Linked DNA regions of Homo sapiens: all the other regions are linked to region 3. The links come from fine-mapping of genetic effects on gene expression. A gene starts in region 3. Each other region holds a variant in brackets. All regions are shown on one strand. Distances are between the middles of the regions.

Evidence for each region.
Region 1: its variant is fine-mapped to the expression of LINC01303 in fibroblasts (GTEx, PIP 0.96).
Region 2: its variant is fine-mapped to the expression of LINC01303 in whole blood (TOPMed, PIP above 0.99).

Annotation. Positions count from the first base shown.
Region 1 is chr14:61,557,927-61,563,149 of GRCh38, reverse strand. It overlaps LINC01303 (long intergenic non-protein coding RNA 1303), which reads left to right. Exons shown (of 5, transcript NR_110416.1): 4 at 1-2,407. Among named protein-coding and RNA genes, the nearest start is that of LINC03033, 10 kb to the left of the region's middle. RefSeq lists an enhancer at 364-1,563. The variant T/A (reference allele first, on the strand shown) is at 2,848.
Region 2 is chr14:61,474,656-61,479,878 of GRCh38, reverse strand. The region is part of intron 9 of PRKCH (protein kinase C eta); the gene reads right to left. Among named protein-coding and RNA genes, the nearest start is that of PRKCH-AS2, 68 kb to the left of the region's middle. RefSeq lists enhancers at 155-324, 922-1,091, 2,169-2,228, 2,862-2,941, 3,052-3,151 and a cis regulatory region at 1,006. The variant T/C (reference allele first, on the strand shown) is at 2,752.
Region 3 is chr14:61,567,551-61,572,773 of GRCh38, reverse strand. It overlaps LINC01303 (long intergenic non-protein coding RNA 1303), which reads left to right and starts at 2,121. Exons shown (of 5, transcript NR_110416.1): 1 at 2,121-2,288; 2 at 3,097-3,230. LINC03033 (long intergenic non-protein coding RNA 3033) reads right to left here and starts at 2,234. Exons shown (of 3, transcript NR_039985.1): 1 at 2,014-2,234. RefSeq lists silencers at 2,944-3,136, 3,877-4,036, 4,117-4,186 and enhancers at 3,528-4,027, 4,028-4,529.

The DNA.
Region 1 (5,223 bases), 9.6 kb after region 3:
CAGAAAGCTAAGGGAGTGGGTACATTACAAAAGGATTGGGAGAGGGGGAGTGGTAAAAACTCCACAGCTCACATTCATTGACTCAGCTCATCTTTCAAGGCCCCAGTTCTCCTGAGTCATCAGTGAGCATGGCCTTGCTTTCATAGTCACTAAGGCTGAATGTGGGTCATTGAGATCTAAACTGGTGTTTAAATGTAACCGCACAGAGGTGAGTCAGACACACACAAGGAGAAAAAGAGCAAAAGAGAGAGAGAAGAAAGAAGGAGACTTAGCTCTCTCTTAAGTGGGGGTGAAAATCCAGGAGCGAATCTGAAATGATCCACCTCTCCAAATCCGTCCACTGTTTAATTGGCTCCATGTAGCTATAGGGAAATTGAGGCATAACTGCTGTGTCCACTAGCCCAAAGCTGTTCCAGGGACAGCAGCAACCTCAGGAGGAGGCCAGAGATTGGCCAATGGAAAGGCAGAAAGCAGGGACTCTCCACCCAGGTGGAGGCACCACAGGGCCCGTGGAGGGAATGGACAGCTGGCATTACGGTCCCCCTACCTTTTCCCAAGACTCTTCCAGCTGACCTACTAAGGCTGCCCCTTGACCTTGAGTACAAATGGCACTCATGCCCAAACAGCCGCTTGACCAGAGCCAACCGACAACCTCCTGTGAGTTTCTCAGCCCCAGGCTGGATCTGCAGGTAAGAGACAGACATTATGTTGAGGCAAATGTAACCCATGCCAAGCAGTGTGTAGAGATTTCTACCTAGCTTTATTGTTGTGAACTCCAGACAAGAGACTTAGAAACCATGTATGATTTTCTACATCAAAAGCCTGAGTCTGAGGCTTAGGGGTCTCTCATCCCTTTTCCAACTCCCTTTGTGTGTTGCGGGGTGGGGGGTGGGGCGGAATGGAGAGTCTGCCATGGAGTCCCCACCTCTGTCCCTTCCAGAAGAGCCTGTATATGGCTAGTGGGCATTTCCCTCCCTGGAGAGGAGGTGGGGGAGGCCCTTCATGTGCTTCCTGGAGCCACAAGGAAAGAGGAGGCTGCTGATTCACCAGCAGCTGCTTCCTGGAATGGCAGTTCCGGGCTGGCAGGCAAACAGTATTTTTCCAAGGTGATCTAGGGCTGTTACAACATTCCCGCTCTGCCCCCATCAGACCTTCCTGTAAGTCAAACCAGAAAGTTACCCAGACCACGCATTCCTGAGCAGTCAAGCACAAGATTCCAGACACAGTGTTTCCAACATGTCTCGCTATCTCTCCTGGGACCTGGGATCCAGTCATCCCCACAGCCCCTGTGCTTCCTCAGCCAAGGCCATGCATTTGTCGCACTGGCCATGGAGTCACATGGAAGCCACTGTGTGGCTCCAAGTCAGCTGGGAGGGGAAGGCCTGCCCTGATTCCCCTAATGGTCTGCTGAGAAAGAGCAGAGCCCTGAGCTAGCTTTGTCCCTGCGTTTCACAAAGCCACTTTCTCTGGTCCTGCCCAGCTTTCTGAGACAGAAAGCTACCATGTCCCAGACTGAATCAGTCTCACTTTTTTTTTTTTTTTCCCCAGAAATAAGGCACAGGTTTGGAAGTGCCTCTGTTTGACCCTGGTGTTTGGTTCTCTCCCTCACATACAGGGAACATGAAGGAGAACCCACCTCTGCTGCTTTTGAAGTGCAGTGGCTTTCACTTGGAATGGACATCTTTACGGGTGGCACTGGGGGCTGTGCAGAGAGGACCAGGGAGAAATTCCAGACTTCTCAGGTTCTGCCTCTGAGACAGACAGTGGTGGGAAACACAAACAATAAAAATCCTTGGTTCCACTTTCCTCATCCCTTCCGGGCAAATGGAATCAAATGAGGGTGAGGGTGGCTGGGGAATAAAGCAGGGTGAGTGAAGAGATGGGGGACTGCTCTTAGAAGCAGTGTCTGAACTCCACCCCCTCCAGGATGAACTGGAAAGTGCTTCTTCTCCTCCCTCCCTTGACTGATGGCTATGGGAACTTTAGATGGGGAAATACGGATATACTGATCTCTCAACCAAATGTAATTTGTATTAAGAATTAAGAGTTCACAAGTTATTCTCTGTCTCTCTCTCTTTTTTTTTTTTTAAAGAAACAGCCTTGCCCTGTCACCCAGGCTGGAGTGCTGTGGTGCTATCATAGCTCACTGCAGCCTCAAAATCCTGGGCTTAAGTGATTCTCCCACCTCAGCCTCCTGAGCAGCTAGTACTACAGGCACACACTACCATAACTGACCAATTTTTCTGTTTTCTGAAGAGATGAGGTTTCGCTCTGTTGACTAGACTGATGTCAAATTCTTGGCCTAACGTGATTTTCTCCCTGGGCCTCCCAAAGTGCTGAGATTAGGAGTGTGAGCCAATGCACCCAGCCAACTTATCCTTTTTTATCTTCATCACAATCTTATGAGGTGGGTATCGTTATTAGTATTGTCATTTAATAGAGGAAGAGAACAAGGATTGGGAGCGTTTAACAGCCGGCCCAGGATGAATGCGTCAAGTTTCAAATCCATGTCTCCTGATTCCAAGTCCATATTTCTCACAGTCCACGTTATATACTCAGCAGACGCTGTTGACAGGCTCTCTGAATCCAGGAGGCAGCTCTGAGCCTCAGGAAGTAAGTTGCTAGAATCCCAGTTAGGGTCCTAATATTCTAAGAGATACAGACCTAACAGAGAAGTGTGCTGTGCCTGTGGCTTTGTGGCAGGGTTTGTCTACAATAAATAAACACATGTTGTGTTCACAGGGCTTAACTCAGTGCTGTAACAGGAGCTTCAGAACTGACAGGGCAAACAGTCCTCTTCAGTTAAGTATCACTGGCCATGTCTTACCCTCTCAGATAAGTTGCAAA[T/A]GCTTTTTTAACTCTCTCCCTCCCACCTACTATTATAGAACCATTTCTCAAAGCTTAATTCAAGACTTTATTTCTGTTTTCCAATAGTTATACACCTTATCTCTAAGAATAACCATTTTTAATGCCTTTGATTTTTCCCACTGAGCTCTTTGCCCCACGATTGTCCAGTAGCTGGGAATGGAGAGTGAGTCTGCACTTTTGATTACCTGATAAACAGCGATCCTTCCTCCTCCCCGATCCCACACTCCCGGAACCCTGACTTGGTTCTCTATCCTTGTCCTTCAGGAGAGAATGAACCTCTCTCCAGCCCCCGGGGGCTAAGGTTTTGTCCGAGACTTAGACTCTCAGCCATTGGTTCGGTATTCTGACTGCGCATTGGAACCATCTAGGGGGCGTTAAAAATCCCACTAACGCCAACAGGGGCTCCAGGGCTCCCTCAGGAGCTGTGGCTTGGCTGTCATTTTTCCCTTGCCAAGTGATTGGTGTTAGGGATGGTCATGTGACGCTAAACTGGCCAATGGGGTACGAGGATGCGAGGCTGCGAAGCTTCTGGGAATGTTTTCCACAGCTAAAAGCAAAAAAGCTGCAATTCAGGGGTGTTTTGTTTTTCTCCCTGGAAGTTGTTCTCTATGTGCCCCAAAGGAAGGAGCTTAATTTAGTTAGCAATCTGTGGACATTATCGCATTTGATCCTCACACTACCCTTTGAGGTAGTTAATATTTTGGTTTTAGTTATTAATTTACAGACAAGGAAACTAAGGTTTCTTAATTTTACAGACAAGGAAACTAAGGTTCACGGAAGTTTCAGTATCTCCACACCCCCTTCAATGACAACAGCTGAGCAGAGTCAGGGTGACCCTGGTCCTGCCTGGTTCCAAAGACCATGATTTTCTCACTATTTCCCTATTTGCAAGGTTGTGCTGGAAAGCTGTCTAAATAATAAAACTAATAAAAGTCCTGGCCGGATGCAGTGGCTCATGCCTGTAATCCCAGCACTTTGGGAGGCCCAGGTAAGAAGGATCGCTTGAGGCTAAGAGAGTTCAAGACCAGCCTGAGTTGACAGCAATAGCTTATCTCTACAAAAGCAAAAAAAAAAAAAAAAAAAAAAAAAAAAAATTAGCTGGGCATGGTGCAGGAGCCTGTAGTTCCAGCTACTCAGGAGGCTGAGGTGGGAGGATCACTTGAGTCCAGGAAATCCAGGCCTTTGAGGCTACATTGAGCTAGGCTCACACCACTGCACTCCAGCCTGGGCAACAGAGTGAGATCCAGTCTCAAAAAAAAAAAAAAAAAAAAAAGGCCTGACTTTTAACACTTACCAATGTCCATGGTGTAAATATTCCCACAATAACCAATTTTAAGCTACCACTGTGAGCTCTCCGAGCACTAACTTGAAAGAGATGTGCACAATCAGCTCTCATGAGCCAGTGTGATCCAACTCCAGCCAACCATTGGAAAAGGGGGCACGTGCTCAAACCCGGTCTTTGATGCTAAAAACATGTTTTCCTTCATCCCCCTACCGGGGCTTTCTCTGAACACACACCTCCCCAGAGCAGATCTTTACACTGGCATTCAGCACTGTTAGGAAAGGTGCTCAGCTCTAGTTCCTAGAGGGCAGAATAAGGATAATGAGGGACAAATCAGTAGGGGTGAACTTCAGAGGTTTCCTAATGCCTCCAGGTTGCTAATGATGCAAGCATGAGCCCCAAAGGACTACTTATCATTCTGCATAAGAGTGGGCCGAGAGAGCCCTTGCCGTTCGTTTGATCTCATTGCCATCTGAGCTGCTATGCCTTTTGTACACCCTGCTGAGCCCCCAGAAATGCTATGCACAGATTCATGACTGTGTGGTACAGTGAAAGCAGCAGGGGCCTGGCATGTGGCCAGTGGAAACATGATGGTAAGCCAACTCAGGCCTGCCCCAGTGGGCCCCCTAGGGCAAACGCCACAATAATAGTGTGCTTGCTAAGCCCATTCCACACTGTGGTACGCCAGCCTCTCAGGGTTGGGAGAGCCCTCCGGTCCAGGTCCATCATCCCCAACGAGGGTTGTAGACTGAAGATGTCCAGTGATCTTCCCTCCAAAGGAAGTCTATTACATATTTAGGGACCTTGGTGGAAAAGTTCATTTTTATGCTATGCCATAACACATTCTATGACTCCTGCTACAGCCTGAGGTGCTCCTAGTTCTAACCCTGGGAGCCATATGTTGTCAGACTGGTCCCTCCACACATGGCACGCCTATCAGTCAGGATAGGCTAGGTTATGCTGCAGGGACAAACACCGATCGTAATCTCAGCGCCATGAAACAGCAGTAATAAAAACCATAACAGCAACTAGTATTTCTTGCTCATTCAAAATGTCCATTGAGGGTAAGCTAG
Region 2 (5,223 bases), 93 kb after region 3:
ACCTGGTGTGAGTTACAGGTGTGGGAGGCAGAGGAGCTGCTGCCTGGTGATAATAGAATTCCTGTCGTCACTTGCTCTGATGCCACTGACCTGCTGCAGTCTGGGTCCACTCTCTGCCCTGGCTATCAGTTCAGAACTATTCCTTCCCCAGGCCCAAGGGGCTAAAAATATCCCCCGAATAATGGCTGTCAGTATAAGTAAGGTGCATTCCCTAAGGCCCCCTCATTAAGGGCTGTTCGATAGGAGTTAAAGCTGATGGGCAATTTGTATGAACAAGAGACATAACATCCGGGTGGATGAAAGTGCTATGCCAGGATGGTACCAGTGACAAGATGATACTAACTAAGGAAAGTGACTGGAGAGCGAGCATGGACCAGGCAGGGCAAGATCCTGTAAGGTCACTGGGGCAAACATCTTTGGAGGCATCTGCTCAGCTCATGGTGATCCCTTCCTCAGCATTTACCCATGCTCCAGCCTGGCCGCATGGGTAAACGCTCAGCATCTGTGCACAGCCAGTTAGATCAAGCTGCACCTGCTCAGAGTCTCTTTTCCAGAAAACTGAAACTGAGGTAAAAAGCTTTTAATTTAGTCTAGGCTGTGTGCAGGAACTGAGGAAACATGAGTTAGGAAACGGAAACTGCTTTTGCAGTGTAAACGTGGGAAATGCCTGGGTATAAGAGAGTGGAGAAAGACTGGGTGGGTGGATGGACAGGTGGGTGGGTGAAGGAGAAGAATGAAGCAGAAACATAGAGTGAGGCAGAGACAAGAGATCAGGGAGGGTGAGTGAGCCAAGAGCAAAACTGCCAGGGTTCCTCATGTCTTTCTGGTTTCAGATCAGCCGAGAGAGCTGGCCAACTCCTGCCCTTGGGTTGCATGAGACATCCGTTGTACCTCTGAATCTTTATTTTTAGTTCTTTTTTTTGCATAGCCTTAAGAAAGTTTTCTTACTACCTGAAGTAAATTTTCTGCTACCAGGAGAATTTCAGCTAAAATACACACAATTTTTGTTTTTCTTTTTGAGACAGGGTCTTGCTCTGTCACCCAGGCTGGAGGGCAGTGGCAGGATCATGGCTCACTGCAGCGCTGAACTTCTGGGCTTAAGTGATCCTTCCAACCTCAGCCTCCTGTGCGGCTGGGACCACAGGTTTGTGCCACCACATCTGGCTAATTTTTTGTATAGACTGGGTATCTTTGTGTTGCACAGGCTGGTCTTGAACTCCTAGGCTCAAGCAATCCTACCTCGGCCTCCCAAAGTGCTGGGATTACAGGCGTGAGCAACCATGCATGGCACACACACCCATTTTTAAGGGGTAAGAAGTTTCCTTATTTATTTATAAATCTGGGATAATAACATCTATAACTACAGTGATCATGTAAAGATTAAACCAGAAGCCAAGTGCCTCATACAGTGCCAAGCCCAGAAAAGAATCTCAATCAATAGAAGCTATTGGTACCACTACATTATATAAAGAGGAGATTTTGTGCCCAGTGCCCAAGTCCCTGGTATGACTAAGAGGAAGCCCAGGGCAGTGGCGACACCTGGGCTCTGGGCCAGGATGCTTGAGGTCCAAGAGCAACTCCTGCTGTGCTGTATTTAGCTTCTCTCTCACAAAACTCACTTCTGCAAAATGGGGATAATAAGACAACCCAACTCACAGGTTTGTGAGGATTAAATGATTTAAGCTAAGGGCTTTGAATAGTGTCTGGCATACCATAAGTGAAATGCTCAAGAAATGTTAGCAACTATTATTATCCTCATCATCATGAGTGCATCCACTGCAGCTTCAGCCGCCATGGCCGTCTGCTCCCAGGGCTCCAAAGGGCCTGATGCATGAGGCATAGGAAGGCCCCTTGGCTGTGGCTGTGGCACACGTGGCAGTGAGCTGCATGCACTGGGTCTCGAGGCCTCCTTCACAGACCTCCAAGACTGGCGGAGGTACACACACACTCACAAGTGGACAGGAATGAAACAGCAGCCGAAACAGCAACTGCAGCAGCTCCCCCAACCCTCAGTGTGGGACAAGGGTATAGAGGGTCGAAGGAGGTGGAAGGAGTCCTAGCCCAGCTGTTGGGACACAGGGATGTTTCCCGATGCTATATGGTAATGGCCTTGACCGGGTAAGGACTTTTCTTTCTGGGAAATGCTTGCTAAGCAAGGGGTTACAAAACTAGATTTGATAACCAAAACATACTAACAAAGGTTTCAGTTCTGATAAGTTTTCTAACACTGACTGGTAATTCATATTTTCTATTTTAGGGGCTTTATAATAATTATTATTGCAAAACAAATGCCCTCCTTATGTACTAAAAACATATTACTGTAAGCGAGACTTTTTATAGCAGTTATTCTTCCTTTCTATAAAGTTGATTCAATCTCAGAACCAGATTGCAAAGATTTGTCTCCATTTAAAGAAAAAATCTGTTGTCTCTATGATTTAAAGACTGCATTTGAAGATGTATCATTCCAGAAACCAAGGCAGTAGGAAATAGCCACCATACTCAGAATTATAGTGAGGATGCAGATTACCTTTTGGAAATAATTCAAAGATAGACATAACACGTAAAAGTTATGAAAAATGTAGCTATTGCTTTAAGGCAATGTTAAGCTGGGAGCCACATCTATTCTTACTTACCCAAGTTCTAAGAACTGCCTTGGAGTATTTCTACATGAATAACAAGCTCATGCTGTATGAAAAGCTGCAGAGTGCTATTGACGGCTGGGGGAAAGGAGAAGGAAATCTCCGTAACAGA[T/C]AGCAGTGTTGAACTTCTCCTAAGTACCGTTGCTTTATTATTTTTCTCAGACAAAGTCATCTACAGGGTGAGCAGGGAGTTCAAATAAACAGGAAACAGTTACTGACGTCAAAGAGGTCACAGTGGAAAAGCACCCGCATGAGGAAATCTGATTGCACCATGTCTGAACTGGAAATAACTTGAATTTAACCACATTAAGAAAGATTACAAAGGCTTCAAGGAAGAAACAATGAGAAGGAGTCTAATGGCTGCATTTTTTTTTTGAACTTATCATTTTGCACAGCCCAGAAGATGTCAGAGGTTAATTCAATCACCCAGCAACCCCTGTGTCAAGCCCACAGGCAAGATACATCCTGTCTGAGCTGAGACTAGTCTTTGGGAAGGTGAAATATGTCCTGAATATAACAAAGCCTTAGGACTTTGCATTTCAAACCTAGAGGGACACACAGCTCTTTTCAAAGACCAAGTGTTTTCCTAGTAATCTGGATGCATTATAGCCATCTCTCATAATGAAACCTGACAAGGCTTACTGGCATATATACAGTAGACCAGGGAAACAAAGAGGAAATCTACCTTGCAGTTTAACACACTGTGAAACATCCAGGCCAGGATGTTCTTTAAAGCATAAATAAGTGGTAACATATGATCAGGGGTACAGCAGAGTCAGAGCACAAGTCCCCTCTTCCTGATGGAACCTCCTTTGGCATTTCTGGTCCACATACAGCTTTCCAGTATCATTGTGTAGGGCTGGGATGGATCTGTGCACTTGGTCTTCTTTTCCATGGGGGACCGGAAACCCTTGAAGGCAGAGCCCAGATACTAAGTGAGATATCTTTAATAGCACCAAGCACAGTGCCTGGCCAATTGTGAGGGTTAATAAATGCTTCAAGAGTGAACATAATAGGAACCATTTTTGTCTCCTGGTAAAATTTAAAATGGAACTTTAGAAGAGCTGGAACAAACTGCCAAGATTCGTTTCACCCAACCATTTTACAGAAGCAAAGGGCAAAGAAGTGAAGTACCTTGCCCATAGTTAAAACAGTTTGTGGAAGAGTTAAGTAGGACAATCAGGTCTGCTGATGCTATATTTTCCTTTATAAAGCTTTGATTTTTCTATTTATAAAACTAATTACATATCCATAGTTCAAATGTAATTACAAAGTAAATAGATAGAAAATTGAGAAGAAAATAAAGAAAATTCAAATAAAATCACCCTAATCCTGACAACCAGATATAGAAGTCTCAAGCTTTTAGCTTCCAAAGAACTGGAGATTTCAGGGCAAATAAGAAGTTTTCAAGGTAATGTTAACTAGATTTAATTTTTCCTTTGTGTCCTAATTATACTTAACATTTTATAGCATGTTTTAAAAACAGAAAGGAAAAAGTAAAAAACATACACTTCTCTTTTCATTTATATTGCATATTATTTCCTGATATAATTAGTCATCAAGACCATGATTTTTTTAACAGTTGCATGCTATTCCCGATGCCAGTTCTATGAAGTCCTACAATTAGCTTGACTTCTAATTAGGTTAATGAAAATAAAAGGACACAGCTTTTATAGTCTCTATGCCATGATAAAGATCATTTTTTTAGCCTGGTAAAGCAGGCATCTCTCAGTGGAGATGATTGCTAACTGGGCACGGTGTTTTAATTGATTGGTCAATCATTTAGACATCACTAACCTTTAGAGCACCCCCTAGTGGTCGAGAAGAACGTTTGAACAAACCTCCTAGTCAAAAACTATCCACATTTGAAATACACTAAAACTTAAGAGTCACAAAGAAGATATCTTGGATGATTATCTACTTTTTAAAAAAGGTTTAGCAACTTAACAAAAGCATCCACAATAGGATTTCTTCAAGTCATTATTTCACATAGTGAAATTCTCTTTATAAAGCTTTTGGTTTAAGCATCAAATAGGATATTTATGGACTTAGTTTGTATAGGGCTTGTAGGATAAAGAGTAAAAATACCATTTCATTTATTTAGATCATTTTTCATGATGGAGATCCCTAAACTGTGTAAACTTTTAAGACAACCACAATTTCATTTCTCCCTCTGATCTATGTATGAATTCGACACTTATGCCATGTGGGAAGATATTTTGGGTTATAGTTGATTAGACACTTTGCCCAGTTAGAGAAGTAGAGACTATGGCCAAGAATATGCCATATCTGCCTCAAGGTGATGCCTGGGAATCTACTGGCTGAGAATTCATTTCCTCTCCCCCTGTCTGCAGTGCTGATGCACGGGCCGAAGTTTCTGTGTGGAATGTGCCTTTCACATGCTATTCTGAGTTTGATTCCTCCACTGTAGCCATGACAAACTCTTCTCTGGTCCTCTGGCTGGGGAACAAAATCTGTTCAAGCAAATGACATGCCCACAATTTCTTCCCAAACTATTAAAAAATTTTTTTAAAATTATACTTTAAGTTCTAGGGTACATGTGCACAACGTGCAGGTTTGTTAC
Region 3 (5,223 bases):
CATACACGTTAGATCAGATAAAGCTCTTGTAATATTCTTGTAGAACATCCTATTCTTTTGCTTCAGGGCCTTTATCACAATTGATAATTATATACTTACTTTTACTTATTGAATTAATTCCCAGTCTCTCTCAGTAGATTACATGCAGTGTCTGTTTCACTTGCCATTGTATCTCTAATGCCTACTACAAGTGCCTGGCATGTAGCAGACACAACTGCTTGTGAATGAATGAATGGTCTCAGTGATTCTGTAAGGATGAAGGTGATGTAGAGTAGTAGATGGCAGCTCTACTCTGGAAGTCCAGAATACTGCTCTGATTCACACCTGCAAGCCTTATTGGTCAATGACTACTGATATTCCAGCCACCCAAACAACTGCTTTCGGAGAAGCATTAATACCTGCGAATAAAACAAATCTATTCGTTTCATACATTTGGTTCAGAACACTAGGAGAATTTGAGAAGAGACGAGCCAGCCCCAAGCTGTCCTTGTTTCTTTTATTAAGAATAGGCCATGATTTGAGCACATTCTACTACTTGCCTCACTTCAGCCTATTGATGGGGGAAAAGTGAGAGTCTGTGTGTGGGGACTCTGGCTTGGCAGTGAGATCTAACACAGAAAGATCCTGAAGAAATATGCTGACAATGGGGTTTTATCTCTTCAATGCACTGGAGACAAAATCCCTGCTTTTAAAAACAACACTCATACAGAGCCAAGGATGTCCCAGAGTGAACAGTCCTAACCCTTTCTCAGCCTGCCTAAGAGCTCGTTGGTTTCAGAAGGATGAGCCAAGGACTGCTACTTAGAGACTACTGTCTAGGTCAACCCAACTGGCATAAGTAAAGCACCTACTGTTTATAGTAGGAGGCTGCAAGATAACAGGAGATGCAGACTATTGAAGGCTACTGATCTATCTGTGTAGACAGGCAAGAATAAAACAACTGGAGAAGAAATCCAGGATTACACAAAAAGAAGAGCGTGATGGTATGGTAGACTACTCCAGAACAGTGAATTTCCCCTGCATTAAGGATGAGATCCCTATGAATTGGGATCATTCAGGAAGTCTTCTTGGAGAAGAAAAGTTTGAGCATATGGGGAAAAAAAGTTGGATTGGCAAAGAGCTGAGCTGTCAGTAGCTGGGTCCTTAGTAAGTAGGCTGCATGGAGCTGGGAGTTATGCTAAAGGAGTTGTAATTTGGGATGCCTCTAATTAACCATTTTGGGAAAAATATAATAAATCCCTTTGTAGCATCTATAATAAACTGCCCAATATCTATGTGGTGGGGAAAAAGTTTTATTCTACGTTTCACGTGGATGGTGATAACACTAGGTAATCTCAGCATCTTTCTTATTCTCTTGCTAATCCAGGATTCTAAGTAATAATCACTTTGTTCTACAACCTGAATCTAGCCCTTGTACTGTGCAGTTTTTTTCTACACTTATTTTTCCTGTTGTCTGAATCAATCTCCATGGAAGCATAAGTTTTACTGAGTTTCAACCAGCTGTGTCCACCGAGGTAAAGATGGTAAAAATAAAAGGCACAGGGCATATATACCACAGCAGCAGTTACTTCCCACAAGGAACCAGAGATTGGAAGTGAAGCTAAAACATTTTCAGCTACGATAGCATCTCTTTCAAGGTGAGCCATTTCCCCAGGGAGAGTTTCCAGCTCTTAGCAAAGGCAGAACAATAAAACATCAAGGATGTCTTTCTAAGGCTGCAAACAGAATAGCCAATACCTTGAAGCTGATCTGCTTCAGAGTCCTTTAAAAGCCAGGACAGCAACAAAGTGCCCACATTACATTTTCTACAAGCTTGCTAAGCATCTCTTTTCCTAAACCACAAAACCCGAGACATTTCTACAGAACAGGCAGAAAGGGAAGTCCTGGGAGATCAGGGCCCTGTCTCAGCAGGCATCACTCCAGCCTGTCTTTTCCCGAGTGGTTTTCTGCACTTCTCTTCCATCTTTTCCCCTCTGTCCCACACTGGAAGTCACTAGTCTGTGCCCTCCTTACCTCCCATGGTTTCTGCACCTTCATTTCCAAAGGCAAGTGAAAACAGTGCCAGGCTGCGCACATGGGTTACTCCAGGGACTTCTCTTCCCGTTTCCCCTAAAGCATTTGACAGTTAGATCTTGGAACTGAGTCCAGCAGCACTGAGGTCAGAGAGATGGCTAAAGCTAAAAGCAAACTGGATGCTGTTCAGGAGGTTCTCCTTTGTCATTTTTATCTCCAAATAGAAGACCTCTGTTTTCCCAGAAGATTAAATAGTAGAAAAGAAGTAGCCCAAGGTGGGTGACTCTGCAAACAGGTGGGTGAGGTCTCTAGTTGAGTGAGGGGGTGTCTGTGGGTTGTGGGTTCTTCTTATGAGCAGAGCTTGGAGGAATTTGTTCTATTTGTTGTGGTTTTCCCAGGGGGAAGTCGGGGGTGGCTGGGACTCTAATGATCATTATCAGAAGACTTTGGATTAGGCCTCTGAAACTTTAAGATGTGGATCCTCTCGCAATCATGTTAAAATGCAGATCTCCTTTCAATAGGTCTGGGACAGAGCCTGGCTTTTCTATAAAGCTTCTGGTGATGGGATGTCGCTGGTTCTCAGCCACAATTTGAGTAGCAAGAGGTTAGCTTTTCTACTTACTGCCTTCATATCCCCAGTTGGGCTATGTCGTTTTATCAAAACAATGTGGTAAGAGTGAGCGCCAATTACTAGCCTGTTGAATCATCCATTGTTAGAGCTGTTTCTTTGAGGTACATTTAAGAGGCCCCTCCCTGTGGTTCCCCATTGCACAAGAAGCCCATTTGCCAGGCAATACCTTGGGCAAGCAAGCCACTGTGCAAAATTGCATTGGCTCTTCCTGCTGCCAGCCAGGCGGCTGCTGGTTGACGTTGGAGTTGTACAGTTTATGTGATAGTGATGACAGCGCTGGCTCTGAAGGGTACTGAAGATTTTGAAGGGGTACTTCGCTGCAGCAGCTTCACCTCTCACTTTTGTTTACCCACCCCCGAGGCTTGTGGGAGAGAAGGATCAGGCAGAGCTCTGCACGTGCCATGCCAGGGGTGGAGGAATTATATTTTTATTTTTTGCTTTCTCTGCTACAGGACATACCATGCCTTTTACAGATATTTATAGGACAATTTCCCTCCTGAGAGTGCCCAAGCATGGGGGATGGTGAGGAAGATGACTGAAGGAGAAAGCAGGAAAAGGGGGTGTCTGCATGTATGAGGATTGGAAGGTGGGGAAAACCCTTCGTGTTTGGTTCAGCCTTCAAGAAAGAGGAGGGGTTGACTAGATTACAGATGTTAAACCAGGGGTCTGTGGTTCAAACCAGCAACTCTCTGCCCTTGTAAGCTGTATCTGGCTGGTGTGTTAATTTGTCTAGGGTAAGAGCCCCTAGGTTTCAACAGATTGTCCTAGAGTCAATGATACACAAAAGGTTAATCAGCCTCATTTCCAATCAGGATCATCTGCAAGTCCCTCCCAGAGCAGATATTTGGAGCACTAGGCTTCTAGAAGCAGCAGACATCAAGTTCGGGCCATGGGATTAGGGTGGACAGGGCAGCCACTTGGAATCATTTTCTACCAGAGGCAGAAGAGGCTCAGCTAGCAACAGCCCCATTTTACAGAGCAGAAGCCGAGCTGCAGTCAATTCAGTGATTCCTCCTAAAGTAGGGAGTCAGAAGCCGAGCCTGGACTGGAACCTCGGCCTCCTAGCACACAGAGCACAGGTCTACATTGGGGAAAAGCCCCTTCAATCTGGCAGTTGCCTGGAAAGCGCAAGACATTTGCGGCCAGAGCGCCAGGAGCCCAGCTGGTTATTTCTAGCTTCCTGAATGTCAAAAATACAGGCCGCTTCTCAAAGCAGCCTCCACTTGTCAGACCAAATCAAGGCATCAGCGCGTCAAGCAGGCGAATCCTCTGCCCCAGGCACCAGCCTGGGGGCGCACGCCCTGCCTCCGCCCCGCCCCACACGGCGCACCTGACCGGTTCCCGCGGTGCGCCTAACCGCGGGCGGGCGAGCGCTGCACCCACGCACCCGGGCGTCGCTCCCACCTGCACCCCGGCGTCACGCCTGAGCGCAATCTGCAGCCTTCACCCACCTGGGCGGCTGCCTGGCTTTGTTTAGAGTTGGAGTCAGCCCGGCAGCCTGCCTTGGCCGAGTGTGACTAGGGAGCTGGTCTCTGACCCTAGCGGCAGATTGGGCAGGACACACTGCCTTCTCTCTGGTCTCTTTTGGAATCTCCCACTTTCACCTGCTTTTCTTCTTAGCAAAACTGCCACCCCTGCCCCTACCCCAATTCCTCGATAGATCTAAATCAACGGGCTTGTTTGTGCCTCTGCAGAACCAATCCAGTTTTACAGGAACAAAAACAAACCCCAGTCCTGAGCGTCTGTTGGTTTCCCGTCCCAACTTCTGTTCATTCAACAAACATGGGAGCATCTACTGGCTAGGCTTTGGACACAACAGACTGAACTCTACCCCAGGGAACTGGCAGCCCCCAGGGGAAAAGAGAAGCGGATGTTTTTAGGCTGTAATTTAACGGTCGCAGGAGAGTTTGCTAGGGAACATGGGGGCAGGGAATGAGCATTGCAGGCAGAGAGGACAGGCTGGTGAAAGAACACCGCAGGCGGTAGGATCTGCAGGAAGGCAGGGTGGCCGGTGGGCACAGAGAGATGAGGGCAAGTAGCAGTGATGGGCTGAGGAGGAGCCAGGACTCAGCCAGAGAAAGGAGAATTGACTTCATCCTGAGAACAATGCAGGGCCTTGGAAGGTTTAAACAGGGAAGTGACCAATCCAATTTGCTTTCTTAGTGGGACTGGAGAGCGCAAGGCCTGTCAGTCCCAGCACAGGGGCAGCAAGCGGCAGCACCGCTGAAAGTAGCAGCATTTTCAAGGACAGGGGTCATGTTCTCCCACTTGGGGATCAAATTACCTAAGTTTTCTTCTATTTCCACCCCCACGCTGCTGCCTTATTCCTATCCCTGGCCCCACTGTGACTGGTTTGGCCTTCTGCCTCCATTGGCCCTTGCCTAGCCTTTAGGTAAAATGCTAGGTTGACCAGGTGTCCAGAAAAAAAAAAGAATGGATAAAGAAAATATGGTGTGTGTGTGTGTGTGTGTGTGTGTGTGTGTGTGTGTGTATTTAACGATGGAATACAACTCAGCCATAAAAAAGACTAAAATCTTATCATGTGCAGCAACGTGGGTAGAATGGAGAGACATTATGTT